3 linked regions of the Homo sapiens genome follow. The protein of the gene in region 2 purifies or fractionates together with the protein of the main gene of each other region. This does not show direct contact. Each region holds a gene or a part of one and is shown on either strand. Other genes may lie near its edges.

What was found. Proteins that work in one complex are often made in the same cells at the same time.
Region 1: the proteins of DNAAF4 (region 2) and PLPBP purify together in Homo sapiens (affinity purification with mass spectrometry; one large-scale study listed by BioGRID and IntAct). This does not show direct contact.
Region 3: the proteins of DNAAF4 (region 2) and NCK2 purify together in Homo sapiens (affinity purification with mass spectrometry; 3 studies listed by BioGRID and IntAct, with this or other methods). This does not show direct contact.

Annotation. Positions count from the first base shown.
Region 1 is NC_000008.11:37,772,645-37,776,144, reverse strand, and holds part of PLPBP (pyridoxal phosphate homeostasis protein), read right to left. Parts: intron 3,391-3,500; coding exon 3,256-3,390; intron 837-3,255; coding exon of another isoform or gene 807-836; coding exon 664-806; intron 228-663; coding exon 129-227; intron 1-128. UniProt on the Homo sapiens protein: Pyridoxal 5'-phosphate (PLP)-binding protein, which may be involved in intracellular homeostatic regulation of pyridoxal 5'-phosphate (PLP), the active form of vitamin B6.
Region 2 is NC_000015.10:55,466,735-55,470,234, reverse strand, and holds part of DNAAF4 (dynein axonemal assembly factor 4), read left to right. Parts: intron 1-3,073; coding exon 3,074-3,305; intron 3,306-3,500.
Region 3 is NC_000002.12:105,891,342-105,894,772, forward strand, and holds the end of NCK2 (cytoplasmic protein NCK2), read left to right. Parts: intron 1-1,640; coding exon 1,641-1,835; 3' UTR 1,836-2,931; downstream 2,932-3,431. UniProt on the Homo sapiens protein: Adapter protein which associates with tyrosine-phosphorylated growth factor receptors or their cellular substrates. Maintains low levels of EIF2S1 phosphorylation by promoting its dephosphorylation by PP1.

The DNA.
Region 1 (3,500 bases), on a different chromosome or scaffold from region 2:
ACTGGGTACCTTACTGCCATCCCAAGGCATTTCCAAGGCTTCTACAGCAAAGATCTGCTCTTGTGTCAGCCTCTCAGACCCCCTACCCCCACCCCTCGAGGCAGACAGGGCACTGGCAGGACACTCACCGCATGCTGGAAATCCGCGGACATGCCCATGCTCAGCTCAACCTGGTCAGCAGGGATGTTCAGCTTTTTACACAGCTCCTCCCGGAGGGACAATAACAGCTGACAGAAAGAGATGACACCTATTTTACTCCTGCCTTCTCTAACGATGCCCAAAAGTGTCTGAATCTGAACTTCTCTGACAACGGTTATGTATTCCTTATGATTTCAAGGCCTGCCAAAATTGCCAGACGTTACTGAAAGGGTTTTTTGCAAACTATCCCACTTTCGAGAAAACTATTAGTCACTGGAGAGGAAGAAATCTCATATTCTCTAAAGACTATGTTTTAGCCAAGTTCAAGTTGAGTTGAAAAAGGTTTGTGGGGCTTTGGAAACCTGTTCTTCCCTTTTCCTTCTGAGAAGAGTTCAAAAGAGGGCTAGAACACTCAACAGGCAGTGTCTGGGATGACTCTGCAATCCCCACTGCAGCCAGCCCTGCAATAGCACTCCAGCACCCTGCTTCTTTAGCACACGAGCAATCTCCCCGACCCCCCAGTACCTGGAAGTCTGGATTTGGTCCTTGACTAAGATCATGCCCAAAGCTTCCTATGGTCATCAGCCCCACAAACTCCAGGTTAGGACACTTGGCGTTTATGTGCTCCACGATGGCTATGGTCTCTGAAGGTGGAAGGCCATGTTTACCTTCAAGAAAAGAAACAGAAAACAGGTATACTGCAAGGGTAAATGGCCAGAGGAAGGCTCCATTTTCCTCCCTTCCTTACGACAGAAGAGGTGACCCCCAACAAGAGAACCTCTTGAAAGAGCCTCAAGTCCTAAAGAGTAACTTTATACTTGGGGTTTTCTATGTTGCTCTGCTTCTGGTCAGGTTCTAAATTTCTCAAGAAAAGAACTATCAGTTGGATTCTCTTTCCTCCATCTCAGGATTTCAGCTGAAAACAGCTAGGAGACATGGAAAAGAAAAAATCTTGCTTTTTTGGGATACCAGGAAGATTTGCATTGCCAAAATGCCAGATGAACCTGAGAATTACTTTTCTAAATCAAGAATTTTTATAGTTTTATTAATTTAATGGAGTTGCAAAAAATTTAGTATAAAGTACATGTTAAATATTTTTGGCTATATATTAGCAAAGTTTAACTGAACTTTCTAATTAACAACTGGAAGAGAAATCTGCAGCAAGCAATTATTTGTTATACAGTTATAAGAGCTATTGATATTGTCTTGCCCCCATTTATTAGGCGGAGATACTAGTAACATTTACTTCAGTCTTTAAATAGGGCATATTATAGCTAATTATCAAGAAATGATACAATAAAGACTTGACCTATAGTTGATTTCAGATTTCTATTGATAATTGGGATTTAAACCCAGGTAGTCTGACTCTAGGACGTTATCTAGAAAACAGATGCCTCTACTGTGTTCCTGCATACTAAGATTTGGTGAATACTGGTGCTTTGATGGTTGCAATCAAATGCCTGATCTGTATACATTTATTCTTAACGAATAGCTAACAACATGTGTAGGGTTCTGTGCTAACAATGTTGCCTGGATTATCATATTCAGTCCTAACCACACCCTCTGAAGTAAGCATTCTCATGATACCATTGCCAAAAAAGGAAACTGAAGTACAGAGAGATTAGGTAACTTATCCAAGGTTACAATACTGGAAAGTAGTGTAGCTGAAACCCAAGGTCTGTCTGATTTCAAAGCCCATGCTTCTATTCACACTATGTTACACTGTTAATCCAAGCCCCATAAAGATATTCATTGACTGGTGCTCACCATAATTTTTTATTTATTTATTTTTTTTTGAGATGGAGTCTAACTCTGTCGCCCAGGCTGGAGTGCAGTGGCGCGATCTCGGATCACTGCAATATTCACCTCCTGGGTTCGAGGGATCCTCCTGCCTCAGCATCCCGAGCAGCTGGGGCTATGGGTGCACACCATCATGCCTGGCTAATTTTTGTATGTATGGTAGAGATGAAGTTTCATCATGTTGGCTAGGCTGGTATCGAATTTCTGACCTCAGGTGATCCACCTGCCTCAGCCTTCCCAAGTGCTGGGATTACAGGTGTAAGCCACCGCACCTGGCCCACTCACAGTAATTATCTTCCATTCTCTCCCAATGCAACATCAAGTAATTTTTTTAAGATCTAAGAGTATTTATATAATCTTAGGTCTTAAAAATTTAAAATACTCCTTGTAGGAGTGATGGTGACCTTTGGGGGTTTCCAGATGAAAGACACAATCCCAGGCCGGGTGCAGTGGCTCATGTCTTTAATCTCAGCACTTTGGGAGGCTGAGGTGGGTGGATCACCTGAGGTCAAGAGTTCAAGACCAGCCTGACCAATATGGCGAAACTCCGTCTCTACTAAAAATACAAATATTAGCTGGGCGTGGTAGCGCGTGCCTGTAATCCCAGCTACTCGGGAGGCTGAGGCAGGAGAATCGCTTCAACCCAGGAGGCGGAGGTTGCAGTGAGCTGAGATCGTGCCACTGCACTCCAGCCTGGCGACAGAGTGAGGCTCTGTCTCAAAAAAAAAAAAAAAAAAGGCTGAGTGTGGTGGCTCACGCCTGTAATCCCAGCACTTTGGGAGGCCGAGATGGGTGGATCACTTGAGAGGTCATGAGCTCGAGAGCAGTCTGGCCAATATGGTGAAACCCCATCGCTATTACAAATACAAAAATTAGCCAGGCGTGGTGGTGCACGCCTGTAGTCCCAGCTACTTGGGAGGCTGAGGTGGGAGAATTGCTTCAACCCGGGAGGCGGAGGTTGCAGTGAGCCGAGATCGCACCATTGCACTCCAGCCTGGGCGACATAGCAAGACTCCATCTCAAAAAAAAAACAAAAATACAAAACGAAGTCACAATCCCCTTCTTGAACTCCCCATCCATTCTTCTTCCCCTAAAATTAAGATATAATGAACCATGATGTAGTAAAGAATGATACATAGACTGCTTTGCATGCCATTATGCTACCTAGATCACACATAAAACAGCCAACTTAGAGGCCTGTGATCCTGTGATTTGTTTCTATAACCTTATCCATCAGACACTTGGGCCCACCCATTCTCCCTAAGCTTCAACCATCCTAAAGGAAGAAAAATCTACAATTCAGGTCTGGTTACTTACTCTCTTCTCCGCTGGTGTTAATCTGGACCATAACCTTTAACCTTTCAGGAGAACCTTTTCTCTGCCAGGAACTGTTCACTTTGTCTGCCAACTTCACAGAATCCACTGTTTCCAGCATGAAGAGATTGGGGACAGCTGTAATGAGACAGAGGCAAAGTAGTATTCCTTATTTGCTCTATTGCAGCAAGTAACATGCAACAAATCTCTGACTTGTTAGAGGAAAAAATATGCCAGGAAAAGAAAAA
Region 2 (3,500 bases):
ACTAAAAATACAAAAATTAGCCAGGCGTGGTGGTATGTGCCTGTAGACCCAGCTACTCAGGAGGCTGAGGCAGGACAATCACTTGAACCTGGGAGGCGGAGGTTGCAGTGAGCCGAGATCGTGCCACTGCACTCCAGCCTGGGCAACGGAGTGAGACTCCGTCTCAGAAAAAAAAAAAAAGGGGTAAATATAAGCGAGGTATTTATCTGATTCCTGTGAGCCATTGAAGCAAATGGTCAAACCTGAGGAGGGGGTTGTAGAAACCCCCAACTTATAGCTGATTGGTTAGAAATATGGGAGTCCTGGACTTATGATTGGCATCTGTGTGGAGACTGTCTTATGGAATTGAGCCCTTAACCTGTGGGATCTAATGCTAACTCCGGGTAGATAATGACAGAACTGAATTAGAGGACACATAGCTGATGTTAGAGAATTGGTAAGCATAGGCCGGGCGCAGTGGCTCACGCCTGTAATCCCAGCACTTTGGGAGGTCAAGGTGGGCGGATCACGAGGTCAGGAGATCGAGACCATCCTGGCTAACACAGTGAAACCCCGTCTCTACTAAAAATATAAAAAAAAAATAAATTAGCCAGGTGTGGTGGCAGACACCTGTAGTTCCAGCTACTCGGGAGGCTGAGGCAGGAGAATGGCATGAACCCAGGAGGCGGAGCTTGCAGTGAGCCGAGATTGCGCCACTGCACTCCAGCCTGGGCGACAGAGTGAGACTCCGTCTCAAAAAAAAAAAAAAAAAAAAAAAAAAGAATTGGTAAGCATAGGAGAAACCCACAAGTTTCGTGATGGAAGTGACCTATGGAGTGTTGTGAGAGTATATAAGAGGCATAAACAGTTTGTTTTTTCTCTGTACACTCTGTTTTTCTTTTTCTTTCTTTCTTTCTTTTTTTTTTGAGAGGAGCCTCGCTCTTGTCCCCCAGGTTTGAGTGCAATGGCTTTATCTCGGCTCACTGCAACCTCCACCTCCCAGGTTCAAATGATTCTCCTCCCTCTGCCTCCCAAGTAGCTGGGATTAAGGGCCTGCCACCAAGCCCGGCTAAATTTTGTATTTTTTAGTAGAGACAGGGTTTCACCATGTTGGCCAGGCTGGTCTCGAACTCCTGACCTCAGATGATCCACCTGCCTCAGCCTCCCAAAGTGCTGGGATTTCAGGCGTGAGCCACCGCGCCCGGTCACTGTACACTCTGTTTTTCTTTGGTACATGTAGTCTCTTTTCTCTTTATCATAAGCTTTGTGTTATTTTCTTCTTCATGTTTTTCTCTTCATTGTAGTTCCTTCTGTTACCTACTCTGTGAAGCCTTTCTTGGTTTCTCCTCTTCATCACTACTCTCTGAAGAGCTGGACTATTTCTGTCTCTAATATAGCTTATTATAAATTATCATTATACCTATAGTTCCCTTAACTACATCTTGGCTATAATACCAGAACTTTCCTGTTATTTTTTGTTGTAAGAACAGTCTCATTTTTGGTAATTAAGACTTAGTCTTATGCATTTTAAAAACTTCATGTAAAATTCATTCTTCTTGCAGGGAGTATGATGGGTGAGGGTGTCTGACTCTCCACATATTCTCCCTTTTTCATGTGTTGGGGCAGAGAGTGAAAAAAGGCAGACATATAATTAGGCTGGGTGAAGTCGTCTTTTAGGTTGTGGCTTCCTCTCTAACATGGAGTGTTCATCATGCCTTATTGTGAGGCATTTAAATTTTGTTTCATTGCCATGTGTAGATTCTTCCTGGTTCAATCTGTTGGCAGCTTACTGGCAACTCTCTGAACTAAGAATATATAGTAATAATTAGCATATTTTGTGCTTAATTTAAGCCTGAGGTAAAATTGGGACTACAGGAAATTTTCATTCAGTGTCCCGTGAAATTTATTTTAAAGTCAGCATCTCACAGGAAAATAATCAGTCTTCTAGAAGAGAGTATTATGTCATGTAGATATTACAGAGCACCTTTCAGTGCACAGGTTTCATACTCGTAATGTTAAATCTCTATTTTAAAGTAATACAACATTTAGGGACCTTCATCCTAGCATATCCATAGTCTAGAACCACTTCAGATGTCCTATTTAAATGTAAATTAATTTAAATGTACATTAATGAAACTTAAATAACATTAAAAATTCAGTTCCTGAGTCTCAGTAGCCACATTTGAAGTACTTAATTAGCCACCTGTGGCTAGTGGCTACTATATTGGATAGCACAGACATTTTGATCATTGAAGTAAGTGCTTCTCTAGTGGATAGAGGTAAGAAATTTTTCTTACCATAGGAAAGTCAGATACATGGAGTCAATCATGTACACCAACTAGGTACTCTGTTTCACAAGGTTTTTTTTCTTGCCCATGTGAGGGAAGTTTGAAAGGCAGAAAAGTTGCCACACACCTGTACAAGATACTGCTTTCAAATTCATCTGATATTTAGCTCTTTGAAAGTGTCAGACAACTACTAGTGCAAACATAGGTTTTGCAGCAGGATTAAGACTTCAAATATTTCCACCCAGCAGAGACAGACCGTCTTGTTCATCCTTCCTATTTCCTTTTCTACTGTTCCCTCTTCCTTCAGTCCTTAGGACTGAAGGGTTGGCACAACTTCGGTTGACAGGGTAAGACTTGGGATAAGTTGAAAAGCAAATGTTTGAATATATGTGTTGGGATGTGTGTGTGTGTGTGTGTGTGTGTAGATTTTGAGAGAAGTGGCTTAACTCCTAGAATAATAAATTTCTATTATTTTTTCTACCAAGCCCTTAGGTATCATCTAATTGAATGCCTGCCCACATTTTACATATAAGTAAACTGAGGTTGGAGAAAGTGATTGCCTAAGACCATACAGCTAATGGTAGATCTGGGACTAAAATCTTTGTTCCATGACTCCAACACCAATGGTTTTTCTCCTGAATCATTTACCTTTCCCATTTTAATTCATAATTCACTACTACCTATTGTTACAAATACAATGGCAAGAGTTTAGAGGTATGAATAACTAATTATTGTAATGAATTTCTCATTTAAATAAATGTTGCTTTTATGTATTTTAAAGAATTTGGTAATTGCAATTGTTATAGATTGAAGAAGAAGAGAGGAAAAAAATAGAAGATATGAAAGAAAATGAACGGATAAAAGCCACTAAAGCATTGGAAGCCTGGAAAGAATATCAAAGAAAAGCTGAGGAGCAAAAAAAAATTCAGAGAGAAGAGAAATTATGTCAAAAAGAAAAGCAAATTAAAGAAGAAAGAAAAAAAATAAAATATAAGAGTCTTACTAGAAATTTGGCATCTAGAAATCTTGCTCCAAAAGGTAAAATGATTAAGAATTTCTTGAGTAGTGAGTCCTGTTGGTGAAGTATATATGACGCTTTTCTTTTTTTGTAAATCTATTCACAGCATTAGGTTACTGTTTTGGCACATTGAGAATAAGCAATTCAGTACAAAGACTAAAGTAAAGACATTTCTTCTTTCGGGGATAATGAAGTTTTCTAATAAAATGAGCAAG
Region 3 (3,431 bases), on a different chromosome or scaffold from region 2:
CAGATTGTCACAGAGCATATGTCCTGCATGCACACACATGTATCCAGGGCACCGCCTGCCTGGCATGTGTTAGTAACTAATTGTTATTCATTTAATGAATTGATCAAAACTTGATATTTTTGTACAAAGAACATTTATCGTTCAGTATCTTCTTTCCTGCATGCTTTTCAGCAAATGAGATAAAAGACCAATTTTTTTTTTTTTTTTTTTTTTTTTTTTTTTTTTTTGAGATTTTTCGCTCTTGTTGCCCAGACCAGAGTGCAGTGGCGTGATCTCAGCTTACAACTTCCACCTCCCAGGTTCAAGCGATTCTCCTGCCTCAGCCTCCCAAGTAGCTGGGATTACAGGCACACTACCACCATGCCTGGCTAATTTTGTATTTTTTAGCAGAGATGAGGTTTCACCATGTTGGCCAGGCTGGTCTCAAAGTCCTGACCACAGGTGATCCACCTGCCTTGGCCTCCCAAAGTGCTGAGATTACAGGCGTGAGCTACTGCACCTGGCCAATAAAAGACACATTTTAATTAAAATAATGACATGTTTCTAAAATATTCTGAAATAGAAGGCACATCACAGAATTTAAATATTTTTCAATAAAATCTGTAATCAAACCATAGTTCAGCTTCCTCTGGGATATTGTGAACTATGTTTAAAATGCGACCGGAATTTTCCACTGCTGTTCATATTTTTAAATGCTTAGAATTAGAAAAATTAGCCAGGCATGGTGGCACATCGGGAGGCTGAGGCAGGAGAATCTGCTTGAACCTGGGAGGCGCAGGTTGCAGTGAGCCAAGATCACACCATTGCACTCTAGCCTGGGCAACAAAAGCAAAACTGCGTCTCAAAAAAAAAAAGAATTAGAAAAATTTTGATGTCTTAATTTCTAATAGGGTTAGACATCAGAAGTAGTAAAATTTCTAGCTACTGCCTGCATGCAAACCACTCTTAATAAATTCCCAGTTTATCAAAAAATAGTTTGGGAAATGAAAAACAGCAAATTTCTTGAGCAGTCAGGGCAACACTGTATATTCCATAGTGAAGTGCTGTATATTCCATAATGAGTTTGCACTTTTCAAATAACTAAAACGCATTTAGCACTGAAACTGGGCTAAGCAGAATTTATTTTTTCTTTGGTTCAGAATTTCAGAATCGTGGACTACCTCCAGGTCTTTCTGAACATCAGATGCCGTTCTAGATATAAAACAGAGACCCGGCTGGGCGTGGTGGCTCATGCCTGTAATCCGAGCAATTTGGAAGGCTGAGGCTGGGAGGGGGGTGGGGATCACCTGAGGTCAGAAGTTCAAGACCAGCCTGGCCAACATGGCGAAACCCTGTCTCTACTAAAAATACAAATATTAGCCGGGCATGGTGGCAGGTTCCTGTAATCCCAGGTACTCGGGAGGCCGAGACAGGAGAATCGCTTGAACCCGTGAGGCGGAGGTTGCAGTGAGCCGAGATTGGGCCACTACACTACAGCCTGGGCAAAAGAGTGAAACTCCATCTCAAAAAAAAAAAAAAAAGCAGAGACCCAGTGTTTGAGCAATGGGTGGTTTGGATTTAGACGCACAAGAGATGTGGATGGATTTAGACACAGCTCCCCGCTGTGGCCCGGCTGTAACTGTGTTCTGTTTCCTCCCCAGCCCAGCGACTTCTCCGTGTCCCTTAAAGCGTCAGGGAAGAACAAACACTTCAAGGTGCAGCTCGTGGACAATGTCTACTGCATTGGGCAGCGGCGCTTCCACACCATGGACGAGCTGGTGGAACACTACAAAAAGGCGCCCATCTTCACCAGCGAGCACGGGGAGAAGCTCTACCTCGTCAGGGCCCTGCAGTGACGGCGCCCCGGCCCCACACTCGCCTCCCGGGCCCCACGGTGGAGCTGCCCGCCCGGCCTTGTGGCAGAGGCTCCTCCCGCGGGGACGGCCCCGACGGCTTCTCTGCGAGTCTCTCTTTATGTTCAGGTCGCTTGGTCGGTTCGTCTCCCATTTGCCATCCAGGCCTCACACCCACACTCGAGCCCACCCGGCCGGCCAGCTTTAGAGGAGGGGAGGAGCAGGGCGAGTTCACATTATTCCTTTTCCATCGGAAGTGGCGCTCGTGCATTCAACTCGTTCCCGCTCATGGAACCCCTCTTTAAAAAGACGCAGGGCACCTGTGAGCGCAGGAGCGAGCCTAAGGCCACCCAGCGGCAGCGCCCGTGTCCTGGGCACTCAGCGTGCTGGGCAGAGCAGGTGCGATGGCCCCAGTCCTAGCAGCCCTCGCCCATGTCCTGTGCCCTTACATGGCTCCCGGACTGTGCAGGGAGCCGATACGTTTGCTGATAGCAATACTGGAACCACCGGGTGCGATGGCAGTGAGGAGACTGCCCAGTGCCTTTGGGGCTGTGCTTGCAATAAAGAATTTCCTGGAAAGGCAGTCTGCAAAAGAGGGAACCGGTGACTCAGAAAGACAGATGTTTTGGTAATTTACCCCAAATGTGCCATCCACATAGTGCTTTTTCCTCTTGCCCTTCGGCTTGTTTGAATCTCACAATTATGTATTTAATTCTCAAAGAAATATGTATCTGTAGCCGTTTGTTGACACTAATACAGATGATTAAGGAAAACAGCTGATCTTTGGGGAAGGGAGCTACCAACACTTTATACACACACACACGTGCACACACACACACACACACACTATATATATATATATTATTTACAGGGAAATTTTTCAGGGTTTACAAAAGAGTATGTGATTGGTAGTAAGAGACACACAGAATGTTTATGAAGAAATTGCATTTTCTTTTTCCTTTACATTTGAACTTCTTTATAGTTTAAATATAACGTCTTGAGATGGCACATTCCTACGATTGAAGAAGGGGTCTTGAGATCCCCTAAACTTGCATACCCAGTTTTTTGGATATTGTAATAAAAAAAAGTATTATGACAAGGCTCTGTGTGTATTTATCTTTGGGAAAACTCAGACTCAATCATGGGAGAGTAATTACTGAAGCATTCACTCATTGCGGAGTGGAAATCATTTTTAGAGAAGAGCTTAACATTTATTACTTGTGTGTTTTCATTTTCTACCCCCACATTTTTGTATATTGAAATAATGAGTTTTAATTAGTGAAACCCCAAGGGAACCCAGAATCTCAAGCTTGGTCTGAACTTTGCTCTTTGGAAAATATTTGTTTAGAAATATGTTGCTGAACTCTTGGCAGCCAGCGCTCTCACACCATGTGTCCCCCACGACTAACTCTCGATTTGTCCTCTTGATCGGGAGCATTTATATTGATGTGCCAGGCCCTGGGGGTGCAGAGTCACATGACTTGGCATTTGTGCCCTCCTAGGCCAATCACGTATCAAGCGCTCCCTCTGCACCATGCACTGCGCCCCCATTTGTTCCTCATCACAGCCCCATGAGGTGGGACCTGCTATCATCCCCAT